Homo sapiens: one gene and its partners. The protein of the gene in region 1 purifies or fractionates together with the protein of each later gene. This does not show direct contact. Each region holds a gene or a part of one and is shown on either strand. Other genes may lie near its edges.

What was found. The genes of interacting proteins can lie anywhere in the genome.
Region 2: the proteins of NUFIP1 (region 1) and SYN1 purify together in Homo sapiens (affinity purification with mass spectrometry; 3 studies listed by BioGRID and IntAct, with this or other methods). This does not show direct contact.
Region 3: the proteins of NUFIP1 (region 1) and NAPB purify together in Homo sapiens (affinity purification with mass spectrometry; 3 studies listed by BioGRID and IntAct, with this or other methods). This does not show direct contact.

Annotation. Positions count from the first base shown.
Region 1 is NC_000013.11:44,986,457-44,993,695, reverse strand, and holds the start of NUFIP1 (FMR1-interacting protein NUFIP1), read left to right. Parts: upstream 1-4,224; 5' UTR 4,225-4,259; coding exon 4,260-4,671; intron 4,672-7,239. Other genes in the region: GPALPP1 (GPALPP motifs-containing protein 1), read right to left, coding at 3,954-4,041. UniProt on the Homo sapiens protein: Binds RNA.
Region 2 is NC_000023.11:47,571,369-47,574,861, reverse strand, and holds the end of SYN1 (synapsin-1), read left to right. Parts: intron 1-86; coding exon 87-174; intron 175-271; coding exon 272-860; intron 861-1,862; coding exon 1,863-1,998; 3' UTR 1,999-2,961; downstream 2,962-3,493. Other genes in the region: ARAF (serine/threonine-protein kinase A-Raf), read right to left, coding at 3,405-3,493. UniProt on the Homo sapiens protein: Neuronal phosphoprotein that coats synaptic vesicles, and binds to the cytoskeleton. Acts as a regulator of synaptic vesicles trafficking, involved in the control of neurotransmitter release at the pre-synaptic terminal.
Region 3 is NC_000020.11:23,390,457-23,397,492, reverse strand, and holds part of NAPB (beta-soluble NSF attachment protein), read left to right. Parts: intron 1-292; coding exon of another isoform or gene 293-304; coding exon 305-421; intron 422-2,025; coding exon of another isoform or gene 2,026-2,216; exon of another isoform or gene 2,217-2,267; coding exon of another isoform or gene 2,268-2,307; coding exon 2,308-2,354; intron 2,355-2,493; coding exon 2,494-2,571; intron 2,572-7,036. UniProt on the Homo sapiens protein: Required for vesicular transport between the endoplasmic reticulum and the Golgi apparatus.

The DNA.
Region 1 (7,239 bases):
TTTTTTTTTTTTTTGAGACGGAGTCTCGATCTGTCGCCCAGGCTGGAGTGCAGTGGCGCGATCTCGGCTCACTGCAACCTCTACCTCCCAGGTACAAGTGATTCTCAAGCCTCAGCCTCCCCAGTAGCTGGGACTACAGGTCCCAGATCACCTGAATCAGAGTTGGCATCTTAACAAGATCTCTGGGTAATCCACCACGCCTGGCTAATTTTTGTATTTTTAGTAAAGACGAGGTTTCACCATGTTGGCCAGGCTGGTCTTGACCTCTTGACCTCAGGTGAGGTCACCTGCCTCGGTCTCCCAAAGTGCTGGGATTACAGGTGTGAGTCACCGTGCCCGGCCTCTCAAAATGTTGTAGAATTACCACATGGTCCAGCAATCCCATTTCTGGGTATACGACCAAAAGAAATGAAAGCAGGGACTTGAACAGATTATTTGTACACCCATGTTCATAACAGCATTATTCACAATAGCATACATAGCAACCCAAGGGTCCAGCAACAGATGAATAAACAAAATGTAGTCTATACAGTATATACATACACGGAATACTGTTGAGTCTTAAAAAGAAAGGAAATTCTAACGTGCTACAATAAGTAAAGCTTGAAAAAATTATGCTAAGTGAAATAAGCCAGTAACCAAAGGGCAAGTACTGTATGATTCCATTAAATGAAGTACCTAAAATAGTCCAATTAACAGAAAAAGAAAGTAGATGGTAGTTACCAGGGACTGGGTCAGAGGGGAGAATGGGGAGTTATTGTTTAATGGGAATAGGTTTCAGTTTTGCAAGATGAAAATAGTTCTAGAGATGGATGGTGGTGATGACCGCACAACAATGTGACTGTACCTAAGTGCCACTGACCTATATGCTTACAAATGGTTAATATGACAGATGTGTATATTTTACCAGAATAAACAAGAAAAAAAACTAGATGCATATATATGGTTGCCTGATTTATAAGGAAGGTGATAGTGGTGAAAGGATGGTCTGTTCAATAAATGGTGCCAGGATACCCTTACAGGGGCAAAAAATTTTCATCCCTATCTCACACCACACACAAATATCAATTCCAGATGAATTGCAAATATAAATGTGAAAGCTGAAACAATAATGCTTTTAGAAGAAAACACAGAAGAGCTTTATAACCTTGGGGTGGGCAAAGATAGCTTAAATAGGATGCAAAAAATTCTACCATAAAAGAAAAAAATTAAAAGTCAGAATATATTAAAATTAAAAACTTATGTTAATCAAAACATACCAACATGAGTGAAAAAACCACAGAATTAGAGAAGATATTTCTGATACACCTATCTGGAAAATGACTCATATCCAGACTATAAAAAGAACTCTATAAATCAATATGAAGACAGACAACTCAATGGAAAAATAAGCAAAAGACTGAACACAGCATGTATTCATATGGTCAAATAACACATGAAAAGGTGGTCAATTTCATTTGTCACCAGGGAAATACAAATTAAAACTACCATGAGATATTGCTACAAACCACCGGATTTAAAAGAAAAAAACTAAATATTAGAATGTGGAACAACTAGAATTCTCATACACGCTGAGAACTTTGGTGACTTTGGAAGCTGGGAGTATCTACCATAAGACATATACTACAATGCATAGCAGCACATTTTATAACAGCCTCCAAATGGAAATTACTCAAATGTTCATCCAACGTAAAATGGATAAATTGCAGAACATTCATCTAATGGATGACTATATAGCAATGTAAAGAAACAACCTATAATAATTCTGTTTGTTTAAAGACCAGATTATGAACTTCAACAATCTATAATAATGCTAATCTACATGAATGAATCTCACAAAGTAATGTAGTACCAAGATAGGAAGCCAGTTATGAAAGAGAAAACATGCAAAACGAATCTGTGATGCTATAAATCAAGGAAGCAGTTACCCTCTGGTTGTAGGAGGGGTGGTGATGCAGGTAATAACTGGAAGATGGTCCAAGTGCAGCTTCTATGGTGTGATATAGTGGATGTGAAGGCCATTGGTACTGGCAAACTTCTTAAAAATCCAGATAGATGAAATAAAAATGATATATGAAGATTTTTTGGCAACCGTTTTAGGTTCAGCCATCTAGGCGGTTATGAAGGGAATGGAATTATAGCAGGGGAGATTATGTGTTTAAAATGACACACTACGTGTAAGATATTGTGCTTGACGAAGAGAAGTCATTCAACAAATATATACGAAGAATCTTTTTCTTTTTTTTTTTTGAGACAGAGTCTCACTCTGTCGCCAGGCTGGAGTGCAGTGGCGCGATCTCGGCTCACCGCAACCTCCGCCTCCCAGGTTCAAGCAATTCTCCTGCCTCAGCCTCCCAAGTAGCTGGGACTACAGGTACGTGCCACCATGCCTGGCTAATTTTTGTATTTTTAGTAGAGACAGGGTTTCACCATGTTGGCCAGAATGGTCTCGATCTCTCGACCTCGTGATCCGCCCGCCTCGGCCTCCCAAAGCGCTGGGTTCACAGGCGTGAGCCACCGCACCTGGCCTTATTTTATTTTTTTAAAGCTATCTCCTACAGGAAGGAAAGCATAATTTTTCACATTTACTTTTATTTATTTATTTATTGAGACAAACTCTCGTTCCGTCGCCCAGGCTGGAGCGCAGTGGCACTCTCGGCTCACTGCAACCTCCGCCTCCTGGGTTCAAGCGATTCTCCTGCCTCAGCCTCCAGAGCAGCTGGGATTACAGGCGCCCGCCACCACGCCCGGCTAATTTTTGTATTTTTAGTAGAGATGGGGTTTCAACATGTTGGCCAGGCTGGTCTTGAACTCCTGAGTTCAAGTGATCCGCCCCGTCTCAGCCTCTCAAAGTGCTGAGATTACAGGCTTGTGCCACCTCGCTCAGCTGGAAGGCATAATTTTTAAAGTGGTTATGACAGAAATTATATTGGAAAGGGGCCTGTAGTAGAAACATAGCCTCCGGGTAGACCAGGAAGAAAAATTAGATTCAGAAATGGCAGGGTTACTCTTTCAGCTTTACTCTTCTCCAACTGGGTGTCGGTGCTAGTCTACAAATGTGAATAAACATTAAAGCAGATAGGTATGCATGCCGGAATCCGAGAAGCATTCGTTTCGTATATACCAAGTGCCTGTTGCGTGTTCAGGTAGAAGACCATAGTGCAATGGTGGAGACAGATTATGTCGACAAATTATTCAAATACAGTGTACTAAATATGCAATGTAATTAGGAAAAAACCCGAGGGCAAAAAGAAAGGCATGACAATGCTTCGGGGAATCTGGAAAGGTTTTATTGGTGTGACATTTAAGTTGGGCCTTGAAGGATGGGGAGAAGTTTGTCAGTTATGTTTAGGAATGCAACCAGAGGAAGCCCAGAAGCCTAGAGCGTTAAGGAATTGCGCAGCAACTCAGACTGGATTGAGTATTGGGCTGTGTTTGTCAGATGCAATAACAGAATGAGAGGCTAGGAAGGCAGGTCGGGGGCTGGAGAGAACAGGATCTGCAAGGTTCTTGTAATCAGAAGGCAATATGGCACAGAGGTTAAGAGAACCGCTTCCTTCTAAGTCGCGCTCCATCACTTGCTAGCAGTATGATCTAGACACTGGCATGGGCTTGGGCGTACCCATTTGCAACATGGGAAAATAGTTTTTTTCTTATACGGCTTAAATGACTGAGTGGGTATCAGTCAGTTAGGGCAGCGTGCAGCTCATATTAAGGCTAAATGAGAATGTATTATCATCACGAAGCCAAACCACGCCAAAGCTCGTTTCTAGGAGGGTCCCCCAGCCTCCTCCCCCCTGCTACTGTTTGGGAAGAGAAAAGTTCTCTCGGGTCAGGCCGCGCCCACTCCCCACTCCTCCGCCCTCCTAGGCCTCCGACTTTCTTCAGCGAGCAGGGCCCGGCCAGGGAGTGGGTAGATGGGCCTGGTGGGCAGCGGAGACGCCGCCGCTTACCAGGGCTCGGGTCCCGCTCTTCGTCCTCCGCTGTTCCGCGGGCCTTGAAGCCGGGCGGCAGGGCCGGTCCGATCAGGTCTCTTGCCATCCGCGGTGGCGGACACTGGTCACAGATATGAGTCTATCCACGAACGTCAACCCTATCCAAAAAGAATCCCGCGATCAGCAGCGAAGAATGGCAGGTTTCCCGGCGCCGAGAAATGACGTAAAGCCTGTGGTTGGCTGAGCCTTGTAGTTCACGGTAAAGGAAGTGACGCCTAATGCTTGCTCCACAGTCGCGTGCTAGACTCCGGACCCGCCAGTGGTATGGCTGAGCCGACTAGTGATTTCGAGACTCCTATCGGGTGGCATGCGTCTCCCGAGCTGACTCCCACGTTAGGGCCCCTGAGCGACACTGCCCCGCCGCGGGACAGCTGGATGTTCTGGGCAATGCTGCCGCCACCGCCACCACCACTTACGTCCTCGCTTCCCGCAGCCGGGTCAAAGCCTTCCTCTGAGTCGCAGCCCCCCATGGAGGCCCAGTCTCTCCCCGGGGCTCCGCCCCCCTTCGACGCCCAGATTCTTCCCGGGGCGCAACCCCCCTTCGACGCCCAGTCTCCCCTTGATTCTCAGCCTCAACCCAGCGGCCAGCCTTGGAATTTCCATGCTTCCACATCGTGGTATTGGAGACAGTCTTCTGATAGGTTTCCTCGGCATCAGAAGTCCTTCAACCCTGCAGGTAGGCTATTTTTCCACGTGAGTCGACCCCTTTACCTTTTTCCCCCGTTCTTTCCTCTCCCCTTTCTCTGCTTCCTCTCTCTACTCTGCCTTGCCTCTGCACTCTTGGAGTCTGGTCATTAGCATCTCAAAGCAAAGTGAGACCCCCGTCTCTACAAAAAAAATAAAATTAGCCAGGCATGGTGGCATGCCTGTGGTCGCAGATGCATGGGAGGCTGAGGCAGGAGGATTCCTTGAACCCAGGAAGTCGAGGCTGCTTTATCAACTAAGTTTATATAATATTGTAAATCCTTTGTTCTCAAAATATGTCTGACTAGAATGTTTTCCTGTTGACTGTTAATTCCATTTAGCAGTTATTTATTGAATTCCGACTATGTACCAGAATCTGGGTATATAGCAGTGAGCAGAACATACAAAAAATATTATGGAGCTTAATATTATCTCTCTTGTGTAGGAAGACAGACAATAAGCAAAATAAAATATTGTGCATTAGAAGGTTGAGTGGCATGGAGAGAGATAAAACAAAGAAGAATGGTAAGTAGTGCAGGATTTTCTTTTTTTCTTTTTTTTTGGAGACAGAGTGTCGCTCTGTCGCCCAGGCTGGAGTGAAGAGTAGCGCGATCTACTTCACTCCAGCCTATGCAGTCTCTGCAGAGAGGCTCACTGCAACCTCTGCCTCCCGAGTTCAAGCAATTCTCATGCCTCAAACTCCTGAGTAGCTGGGACTACAGGCCCACGCCACCACACCCGGCTAATTTTTTATATTTTTAGTAGAAAGGGGGTTGCCCCGTGTTGGACAGGCCTGTCTCTAACTCCTGAGCTCAGGCATCCGCCCGCCTCAGCCTCCCAAAGTGTTGGGATTACAGGCATGAGCCACCACGCCGGGCCAGGTAGTGCAGTTTTAAATGTCATTGTTAGTCATAAGGAAGGTGACATATGAGCGAAGACTTTAGGGAGGTGAGAGATCACAGCCATGCATACAACTGGGAGAATAGGGGTACGGGCAGAAGGAACTGCAAGTGCAAAGGTCTTGAGGCTTAGAAGCTATACATCAGAATGGGAACCAGTGTGGCTACAGAGGACTGAGTCTGGAGTATAATTGTAGAAGATGGGGGAGGAGGGTAAGACCTGGTATGTCTTTGTAGATCGTGGGACTTTGACTTTTACTGTTGTGAGGTGGGTAGTACAGCGGATTGACATGACCTGATTTACGTTTTAAGAGGATTAATGTGTCTGTTGGTGAGAACTGACTGAAAGGGAAACCGGTTAGGAAGCTATTGTAGTTACTTTTCTAAACAAGAGATATTGGAGACTTGGACCAGGGTGAAGCCCAAGGGATGGTGAGAAGTAGTTGGATTCTAGATCTGGGGATACCTTGGAGCTCTTGTGGGTTCAGTTACAGACCACTGCAGTAAAGCAAGTCACACAATTATTTTTTTTTTGGTTTTCCGTTGCATGTAAAAGTATGTTTTCCTGCAGATCCTATGGGGCAAAAAAGTTATTTTTACATTATACCATAGTCTAGTAAGTGTGCAATACCATTATGTCTTAAAAAACAACTTACATACCTTGATTAAAAAATACTTTAGGCTGAGCAGGGTAGCTCACACCTATAATCTGGGCACTTTATTTATTTTTTTTTTTAATTTGTTGAGACAGAGTCTCTGTTGCTCAGGCTGGAGTGCAATGGCGTGATCTTGGCTCATTGCAACCTCCACCTCCCAGGTTGAGGTGATTCTCCTGCCTCAGCCTCCCGAGCAGCTGGTACTACAGGTGCCCGCCACCATGCCTGGCTAATTTTTGTATTTTTAGTAGAGACAAGGTTTCACCATGTTGGCCAGGCTTATCTCGAACTCCTGACCTCAAGTGATCCATCCTCCTTGGCCTCCGAAAAGTGCTGAGATTACAAGCGTGAGCCACTGCACCCAGCCTAATCTTAGCACTTTGAGAGGCAGAGGCAAGAGGATTGCTTGAGCCCAGGAGTTTGAGACCTGCCTGGGCAACAAAGTGAGACCCCCGTCTCTACAAAAAAAATAAAATTAGCCAGGCGTGGTGGAATGCCTGTGGTCCTAGAAGCATGGGAGGCTGAGGCAGGAGGATTCCTTGAGCCCAGGAAGTCGAGGCTACTTTATCAACTAAGTTTATATAATATTATAAATCCTTTGTTGTCATTTCAACAGTGTTCACAGCATCTTCACCAGGAGTAGATTCCTTCTCAAAAAAGCACTTTCTTTCCTCATCCATAAGAAGCCACTTCTCATCCATTAAAGGTTTACCATGAGATTGCAGCAAGTCACATCTTGTGGCTCCACTTCTTTTTTTTTTTTTTTTTTTGAGATGGAGTCTTGCTCTGTTGCCCAGGCTGGAGTGCAGTGGCTCGATCTTGGCTCATTGCAAGCTCTGCCTCCCAGGTTCACGCCGTTCTCCTGCCTCAGCCTCCCTAGTAGCTGGGACTACAGGCGCCCACCACCACGCCCGGCTGATTTTTTTGTATTTTTAGTAGAGATGGGGTTTCACCATGTTAGCCAGGATGGTCTCGATCGCCTGACCTCGTGATCCACCCACCTCA
Region 2 (3,493 bases), on another chromosome or scaffold:
GCACAGGGAACCTGTGTCATCACTGGCTGATGCTCCACTGGCTGGTAACTATTTTTAACCTCTCCTGCTCCATTCCTCTGCCGCAGACTCCGTCCCCAGGGGCCCTGCCCTTGGGCCGCCAGACCTCCCAGCAGCCCGCAGGGCCCCCGGCTCAGCAGCGACCCCCACCACAGGGTAAGCGAGAGGCTGGCGGTCGCAGTCCCCTCCCTCAGCCCGCCATCTCTTACCCGCTCACTCTCACGTGTGCTCTTTCTCTCCCTCTGTCCCCCAGGCGGCCCTCCACAGCCGGGTCCAGGCCCCCAGCGCCAGGGACCCCCATTGCAGCAGCGCCCGCCCCCGCAGGGCCAGCAGCACCTTTCAGGCCTTGGACCCCCAGCTGGCAGCCCCCTGCCCCAGCGCCTTCCAAGTCCCACCTCAGCGCCCCAGCAGCCCGCGTCCCAGGCCGCGCCGCCGACCCAGGGTCAAGGCCGCCAATCCCGGCCAGTGGCGGGAGGCCCCGGGGCGCCTCCAGCAGCCCGCCCGCCCGCCTCTCCGTCTCCCCAGCGCCAGGCGGGCCCCCCACAGGCTACCCGTCAGACATCCGTCTCTGGCCCGGCTCCGCCAAAGGCCTCTGGGGCCCCACCGGGCGGGCAGCAGCGCCAGGGCCCGCCCCAGAAACCCCCAGGCCCAGCCGGCCCCACACGCCAGGCCAGCCAGGCGGGTCCCGTGCCCCGCACTGGGCCACCCACCACGCAGCAGCCTCGGCCCAGCGGCCCGGGCCCCGCTGGACGTCCCAAACCACAGCTGGCCCAGAAACCCAGCCAGGACGTGCCGCCACCCGCCACCGCCGCTGCAGGGGGACCTCCGCACCCCCAGCTCAAGTAAGGGGACCCCTACAGCAGCCTTCGCCTTGCTGCTCACAAAGCGGGCCGCTGCCCCAGTAGAGCAGCCCTAGCTCCCTTGCTCCTCAGACCCAGGTCCTATGCAGGGGTCCCACGAACTCTCTCCAGCCTGAGCCAAGCCCTTCCCCCAAGCTTTCGCTCCTCCCGGCCCACCAGAGGCTCCGCACCCCCACCCCAGGAATTTGGTGCCAGAATCCCAGAGAAACTGCACTCAGTTCGAATTCCTCCTCAAAGGCCCTGGGAAAGTTTCCTCCTCCAGGGCCTCCCAGGCACCTGGCTGACCCACCCTCTGCAACTTCCTGCCCAGCCCAGAGCCTTCCCTGCCAAACTCGCCCCCCCGCCACCAACCCATCCCTAAAACTCCTGGCCCGAGTCCTAGTCCTCCTATCATCTGGCTCTTCCCACTCCATCCTCATACTTTTCCTCCTCCTTCACATCCTTCTGGCCCATCTCAGTCTCCCCGCGAATCATCACCCATCTGCCTTTTCTGGTCCATTCCAACTCCCATCCCAGCTCAGACGTCCTCCCTGCCCCACCCAGCTGCTCTGCCTTAGGCTGACTTGCCCAACAGCCTGTCCTTGGTCCAAGCCCTTTCTATGCCCTCCTAGACACCTCACCCTTAGATTGGAAACTTCCCTGCTCATCTTCCCCTTTGTATCAAACTAGCCAAGAATTCACAGAGAAGGTTCTGCCCAGGACTCTTGCCACGAATCCCACACTTCACCCTGGATCCAAGTCCTCCCAGCCTGTCCCAGATCTCGCCTCCCTGGCCCAGGACTCCACCCACTCCACCTGAGTGCTCCCAGCCTTGAGAACCTGTTAGGGTCCAGGCCCATGGTGGCAGGTGGGGAGGTCACAGGCACAGCCCCAGGATCAGAGGGGCAGGGCTGGGGCTGGGCCTGGGGTAACGTTGTGTTTCTCTCCCCTTCCTCCCCTTCCTCTTCCCCCTTCCTCCCACGCCTCCACCTTGTCTCTCTCTAGCAAATCCCAGTCTCTGACCAATGCCTTCAACCTTCCAGAGCCAGCCCCGCCCAGGCCCAGCCTTAGCCAGGACGAGGTGAAAGCTGAGACCATCCGCAGCCTGAGGAAGTCTTTCGCCAGCCTCTTCTCCGACTGATACCCCACTCTGAGAACCCCAAAATCCCTGGGCAACCCTTCTCTGGGCCCTGAATCCATTTCTCACTTTTGGAGTCTCCAAATCCCTTGAGAACCCATCTCCCGGTTCTCCAAGATTCCACCTCTCATTCCTCAAGATCCCCGAGTACCTTGAGAAACCTGACTCCTCCTGGCCCTAAATCCGGTTCTCACATGTGGAATCCCCAAGTCCTTTTAGAACCCCACTCGTGGTCACTTCAGGATCTACTTCTGTTTTAGAACCTCCACATTCCTGAAGACCTCCGCCCCTGGTTTCCCCAGAGGGCGTTTTCCTTCCTGGAAGTGCCCAAATACCAGGCAACCCATTGCAGAATCCCTTCCTGGAGCCCTGAAGTTCCTGGAAAACCCTATTTTTGGTCCCAAATCTCTCCAGCACACCTATTTCCCATCATAATTTTCCAAATCCTCAAGAAACCCCTACTGTTGAGCCCCTTCCCATGGATCTTCCATCCCTCTGAAGATCCACATCTTCAAATGCCACCCAACACCTAGCCCCACAAGGATTTCCCTTCACCAGCTCCCCTCAACCTCATTCAATACCTTGGGAGCCCCTCCCACTTCCAGGACCCCTCGGTTCCCCCAGGGACCCCCTCCCCAGTTTCCTGCCTCTGACAGCTGTCTTTAAATATGCAAACTCCACCCATCTTCCCAGAATCCTTTGCACACGGAAGGCCAGTGGTCTCCGCTTCCCCACCTTTGCTGTGGTGTCTGTGTCTGTGACTGACGTGGCCTCCTTTTGTGCCGTGCTTGGCATATGTGGTCCTCGTTCATCGTGCCGCCTGTGGTGATGCGTGCAGTGACGCTGTTTATGTGGTCCGCACCTCCCCCTGACCTTCACTCCTTGCCTGGACTCACCCCACCCCTCAGCGGCTCTGAACCCCAAGAGAAGAGTCGGGAAACAAAATAAACAAGCAAAGGCCCAGCAGAATTCTGTGCTTCTTGGTGAAGAAAGAGAGGAGTCCTTGAATGGCGGGGGAGACACAAAAGGGACCCCCCAAAATCCACATGGGGTGCTGGGAACCCCAAAATCCAGTGGAAGGCACATCAGGCACAAATTCCAGAGAGGTTCTGAGTGGAATCCCTGCCACAAATCCCAGCCATTGGAGATGGAGGAGCTCCCAAAATTTAGAAGTATCCCCAAAGCCAAGAGGAAACCAAATGATGGAGGAGACAGGGGGCTCAGTCTTTGGCGGGGGTCCCCCAATTCCAGAAGAACTGGAAAAGCACATGGGGACCCCCTCATCTCCCAGGGTGGGGAATGGGGGATCCTGAGGCAGCATCAGGGCAGAGACGAACATTGATTGGCTGGTGGGCAAGGCTCCTTGGCGTGGAGGGCTGAGATTGGCTCCCTGGTGGCTTGGGCGGGGCCTAAGGCACAAGGCGGGCTGCGCTGAGTAGGCAGGCAGGCAACTCATCGGCCTGGGTGCGGTGCAAGGAGGGTTCCGAGGCACTCCGCT
Region 3 (7,036 bases), on another chromosome or scaffold:
AATTGAGTAGCCCAAGACTTGGCTACTGGTATTGAATGGACAGATCAGGGAATAGTGGCTTAGTGCCCAGGGACACTTGGAAAGTCTGCTGGAGCTGAGGTGGAGAAGCTTTCATCGCTGTTTGACTTGATTCTGGTTATTTTTATATTTGCCCGAGGTGCACTGGACCACATGGATTTTTGCTTCTGACTAGAATGCTTCTTTTCAGTGGAATATAATTTTTCTAGGGAGGTCCAGTGCTTACAGCATGGGCTGCTCTGGGGGGGACTTGTTCCTCTGTGTTTAATTGTAGTGTCTTCTTCAGCTGCAGGAAACGCATTTTGTCAGGCAGCCAAGCTCCACATGCAGCTTCAGAGCAAACATGACTCTGCTACCAGCTTTGTGGATGCTGGAAATGCTTACAAAAAGGCAGATCCCCAAGGTAAGACAGCCAGGCATGTAGCATGCTATCTCTGTGTGTAACTAACCAGTCAGTACTTCCCTCAACGTTAAGGTCAGTGTTGGTGTGCTTTCAAGTCCTGGTAAAAAGGAATTTTTGTATTTTGGAATAATAGAGAATTTTGATAACCTTAGGGATTTTTCTTTTTTAATCATTTGGGGGCTTTTATGAGGAGAAATTATGTTAAATTTATACTGGCTGTTTACTTTATAGCATCATTTAATTAAACTCTTATTTATATTGCATTTTAGAGAATTTTTTGGAAATTACCTTTAATTTTATCTAAGACTTCTTATATCTTAATTTTGTGAAAATGTATATTGTTCATAAAAGGAAACTCTTATGTTCCCTTACTCCTAAATACCTAAGGAGTTTTCAGATCCAGTTAATGGGAGATTGTAATATTCAATCGTTAAAAAGTCTGATTCATACAGTATTCATTTGGTTTTTTAAAAAGTTTTTCAAAGTATTTGTTTTGAGGAAAGAATGCAATTGGATATTTAATGTGGTAAAATTTTGCAAAGATTATTTCTTTTTAGTTAGAAGAGTGTAATTAAAAGTATTAATTTCTTACCTTCCACACGCGTGCACAGCGGAAATTTTGTGTTTTTCCTTTTTCTTTTAGCAGTCCATTTTGTTTAACACACAGATCCCAAATTTTGAGAATAAATATGTCATAAAGAAATAGGGTATCTTCAATACCTTTGGTATAAGGGTTAATCACAGTTTATTTCCCAAAGTGACAAACTGGACACAGGTTAAATAAGCTGTTAGAGTGGTAACATTGTAATGCATCAGTACTTTAGAATATGGTGCAGGCATTAAAATCCCTGGTTTCAGAGAATCTTCAGTGACCTGGTAAATGTTTACATGTCAATTAAAGAAGCACATGAGACTGAATGTTGTATAATCTCATTTTCAGAAAAAAGTTTGTGCATATAGAAATGTGTCTAATAAACGCAAAAGGAAAGTACATCTGAGTACTAACAACGGATTTGAGCGGGATTATTGATAGATTATTTTTCTCTTTATATTCTGTATTTTAAAAGGTGTAACAGGGATCCACATTTTTTATGTAGTTTAGAGGGAAATTGTTTTAATTTTTGTTCATCTGCTTACCTTTCTAATTTTGTAGTCAGGCCTTTCTACTTTGCTGCCTCTTTAAACCAAACGTAATAAACTTGGAGCTGTCACTGTATGCCAGCATCATAAACACCATCATTTTATGATAGGGAAAATTTTTTGGCTCACTTGTTTAGAAAATTAGTAAAATTTATTAGCATTATTATTTATTAGATTTGTTTCTTCATTTTGTTAGTATGCTACAATTTAGCATCTTTGAACATTATACAGAATGTTGACTTTGCTTAAGGGTTGTTTGAATAGGCATTTCAAAGTGCTTTTGCTTTTGGCTGCATGGAGAGTAGAATCTATTGAGGTGATTGTTCTTGTGATGTGGTGCCATGTTCCAAAATTAATATATATGCATGGTATTAATGAGGAATATGTTTGCATTCATATTTTAGCAGATACAATTTATCAGTGTTGGTGACAACCTCTATGGTTTTATTTTCTTTATAATACAGTCTTTTGCCTGGATGGAGTCCTCACTTTAAGGTTAAGAGTAACTAAGCCAATGTTACTCCAGCTACAGTTCCCTAAATTATACTATAGCTGCTGGGAACAAAGCCATGCTGATGAATCTGGACTTGTGCATGATTTTTGTTTGCTTCTCATTAACCTGCCCACCCTCCACTCCAAAATTATACCTCATTAACGTTCTGATAACAGCCAGGAAGACAGCCTCACCTGAACCCTCTTTGACTGAATGGATTTTTCATTGTTTTTCTTAAATGCCTACGCTTCAGAGGCTATCAACTGCTTAAATGCAGCCATCGACATTTACACAGACATGGTAAGACATTGCATTGCTTGAGTGGCTGTGGGGTGGAGTCTTGAGATGGCTTAGAGTTCTATCTTTCTTTTTTATGTTCCCAAACTGGCATTCAGATAGGTAAAATCGGTGTGTGACTGTTTCTTGTTTTTTCCCCTAGGGAAGGTTTACAATTGCAGCCAAGCACCACATTACTATTGCAGAGATCTATGAGACTGAACTTGTAGACATTGAGAAGGTAAGCAGTGGGCACACTTCCTCAGATGTGAAGCAGGCAGATAAGCTGACTCAAAGAACTCTCCTCTCCTCAGTCTGAGAGTGATCGTAGGTGTAGAGTGGTCATAGATGGCCTTGCCTGGAGACTTTCTGGCAAAGTCTACTAGCTGGCTAAGTAGATGGGCTGTTTTCCTGGAGTGGACATCTAAGACATGAGAGCTGATTAAGATTTACAGAGATCACCTGTTGTTTCCACTCTCTCTGATTCATGTCAGAACATTAGCATTGCCAAAAGAACCTTCAGCTGTATTGCTTAGTACTCTAAGGCCCAGTGAAGAAAGTGTAAGAGGTCACCTCTGTACACTCAGTCAGCATCACAGCTTTAAGTATCTGTGTGCCAGTGACTCAGAAATCTGACTGCAGCCTAGACCTCTCTCCAAATGCTAGATTACTGTATCCACCTGCCTGCTGACCTCTCCACTTTGTCCAGCAGTCATCTCTAACCCAACATGTCTGGGACTGGATTCTCAGATGTCCCCAACCCAGTGTTCCCCGCTAAACTACAGGCTTCCTTGCCTTTTCTCTTTCTCTACAACCTGTGAGCAATTTTTGTGAGCGGTGTCCTTCCTGCTCCCAAGTCTTGGCACAACTCACTACCTTGTCTCTCAGCTCACACTTGATCGCTGCAGGATCCTTCAAACCGGTCTCCCTGCTTTTGCTCTCCCTACCTTGCCAACCCCACATCCCCATGCCACAGAGTAGCCAGAGTGAGCCTTCTAAGCATTGCATCATACTCTGTTTCTCTACTGCTGACAGTCATTAGACCCCTTTCACTAAGAGGAACAGCTGGAGCTGTGCAGAGCCTTCATGGGTCCACTGAATTGCTTCCTCCCAGCCCCACACTCCCCATGCATCTGTGTGGCCTGGCCTCTCCTCTTTTCTGTTATTCTCCTCCTCTTGCATACCCTGCATGGCCATCCTGGCCTCCTTGCTGTTCCGCACACATGCCAGATGAGCGCTCCTGCCTCAGGACCTTTGTATCCACGATTTCCTCTGTCTGCAAAGCTCTTCCCCAGATGTCCACGTGGCTGACTCCTCACATCTTTCAAGTCCACATGGCTAACTTCCCCGTGCCCTTCCATTTTTGCTCATTTATTACCTATTTCCATGATTAACTATTATGACCCCCTAGTTAATTTAGCCCCCCAGGAAGACATAGTAGATCCCCACACACCTCACTTAACTTCTTGTATTGCTGAGCAGATGTCTCCTTACAATATGCCCTCTCATATGCTTGCTCATCATTCTCATTTTGGTTGTCTCTCTCCCTCCGCCAGATTGGGCACACGTGTCAGCAGAGAGCTTTGTCTCTGCTTTGCTGATGTGTCCCAAGAGCCCAGAACTCTGGGACCTAGTGGGGTCTAAATATTTGCTAAATAAACAAATGCTACCCCTACCTCCACCATACCAAATGGAGTCTTCCTGGTCTGGGGAAGGATCTGCTAGGCGTTACTGAAATTGGACTGGCATTGTTAACGTTCACTCTTTTGACTGTGTGACCTCCACCTGTTGGTTATTCAGCACAAAATTTGCTCATATTTGTTACATAAAATTTATTATTTGACCTTTTTTTTTTATAATTGCCATACTTTTCTGAGGATACTCCCTGATCTTGATCAAGTCAGGGCCACCCTGTGCATTGACGTGTGTGTGAGCCTTCTCTTTGGAAGGTTATCTGTGGATCCTGGAGGCAGGTGATGGAGCTGGATCTGAACCTCCTTTGTTCCCTGGTGTGGAATTGATGATGGAATGGGAGGGAGATGGATCTGGTGTGGCTGGGGTATTTATTTGGTCAGGGTGTCTGGGATGGCCACAGTATCTTTATTTAGGTTTGAGTGAGTCTTGCGGGGATGAGCACTGTGCGCAGAGCATCTTTGCCAGCAGAGGCTCCTGTTCCAGCTTCCTCTTTCACAGTGGTCAGAAGGGCACTCTGGGGCAGGAGCCTGCAGTGCTGTGTCATTTCTGCTGCCCAGGCATGGTCTCCAACACATGGGTCTCCATAAACTTGAGAGCAGATAAAATGAAATGTGACATACTCTTTTTTTCTCTTGAAAAAAAAAAGGCCAGGTACAGTGGCTGATGCCTATAATCCTACCACTTTGGGAGGCCAAGGCAGGAGGATCACTTGAGCCCAGGAGTTCAAGACCAGCCTGGGCAACATGAGAAATCCCCATCTCTACTAAAAATATAAAAAAAAAAACTATCCAGGAATGGTGGCGTGTGCCTCATTCTGTTCCACAGGCTGGACAGGTTGGAGTGGCATGAACACAGCTCACTGTAGCCTCAGCCTCCTGGGCTCAAGCGATCCTCCCACCTCAGCCTTCCAAGTAGCTGAGACTACAGGCATGTGCCACCATGCCCGGCTAATTTTTTAATTTTTCATACAAATGAGGTCTTTTCATGTTGCCCAGGCTGGTCTCAAACTCCTGGACTCAAGCAGTCCTCCCATCTTGGCCTCCCAAATGCTGAGATTACAGTCATGGACCATCATGCCTGACCTTCACGGAATACTGAATTTTAAAATGCAGCTATAAAAGAACAGGTGTACTATGGTTCTCTTTTTGCAAATACTTAGTCACACACAGAAATAGTCTGGAAGAAAATATTTCTCTGGAAGAAAATATTTCTTTGGAACACCTGTCAGAGCTGTCATGTACACACATGTGAGATTACCTGATGAAGGTACATCTCCTCCCTCTAAAATGTGGGCTCTGTGAGGGCAGGGCCCATGACTGTTCCGCTCACCATCACAGCCCTGAGCCTAGCATGATGCCTATTTACAAAGTGGGTGCTCAGTAACAGATGCTAAGTGAATGAAGACAAAGTGCATCACAAATGAAAGCTGCCTATAGTTCCATGGCCTGTTTTGTTTTATTTGTTTTCTTGTCCCTGCAAATCTCTTCTAACTCACTAGGAGCTGCCTTGAAGCCACTTAACTAATGGGCTTGGGCAGAAAGGCAGCACCTTTAATCTGATTTTCAGAGACTGCTAGCTCCCTCATTTGCATTTGCTGTGAAACCTTTGTCATTCAAGCATCCTGCAAACCCACCACCTGCTTCTGTATGTTTGCATGCTAAAAATGGTTTTTACGGTTTTTAATCCTTGAGAGAAAAAAGCATTTTGCGACGTGTAAAAATTATATGAAATTAGAAATTTCATTGTTCATAAATATAGTTTTATTGGAACACAACCACACTTATTCATTTATATCTTGTGTATGGCTGCTTTTATGCTACCACAAGAGAGCTGAGTAGTTGCAACAAAGATGCACAAAACCTAAAATATTTCTTGTCTGACCTGTTAGAGAAAAACTTTGGCTAGAGCCCTGGTTTAAAGAGCTGCTCATACTTATCTCTTGTTATTTGGGGTATAGAAGGTTTTTTCAATCTTATGAGAGCTTTATTTCTAAGGCTGTCTACCACCGTCTACAAACCAGCTGATTCTTTGCAGAGTTCAGCTCTTACAAAACTGTGCTAAAAACAGCAGCACACACTATCATCTGACTCTTCTCAGCCATTTTGCTTAGTTTTGGACTCCGGTAGACACTTATTTTTTTGTTTGTTTGTTTGTTTGAGACAGAGTTTCACTCTTGTCACCCAGGCTGGAGTGCAATGGCGCGATCTCAGCTCACTGCAACCTCTGCCTCCCCGGTTCAAGCAGTTCTCCTGTCTCAGCCTCCCAAGTAGCTGGGATTACGGGTGCCCACACCACGCCCGGCTAATTTTTGTATCTTTTTAGTAGAGACAGGGTTTCACCATGTTGGCCAGGCTAGTCCTGAACTCCTCAGGTATTCCACCCTCCTCGGCCTCCAAAAGTGCTGGGATTACAGGCATGAGCCACCGCACCTGGCCGACACCAGTTCTTTTTTCTGAGTTGTCACGTGCTTGATTTCACTAACTTCTACCACAGCATGACAAGGACTTCTAGCTTTCTGGCCTGTGATCTCTGTTTCTTCTCCACTTGATGCCATATATTTTAGATTGACGGCAACACCCTTATTCTAGGTGACACTTAAGGTATTAGTGTGTGTAGTCTGTGCTGCAAGTCATAGACGTAAGGTGTAATTAGGGCTTCATAGCTCTCTAACAATCCAGTGTGGCTGCTAAGGGTTTGACAGTGGTAGAGACACTGGGGTTGGAGGTACCTTGTGTCCTTTGTAATTACTTAGGAACCTGCCTGACAGTTCTGCCATTTTGGTGTCTAGCTTACAGTGTCACTCTGGACTTGGTCATAGCCCTCCTAGCTCATGGGAAGTGGAAGGCCTGGAGGAGGATGCAAAGTGAGATATATGGCCCAAGCCTGGGAGTGGCCCCCAACATGTCTGTTTACATTCCACTGGAGAGAACTAGTCATAGGCTGCCCCTCACTATGGAGGAAGCTGAGGAAGTGGTGTAGCTGGGCATATGCCATGTGGGGAGGGGGAAACA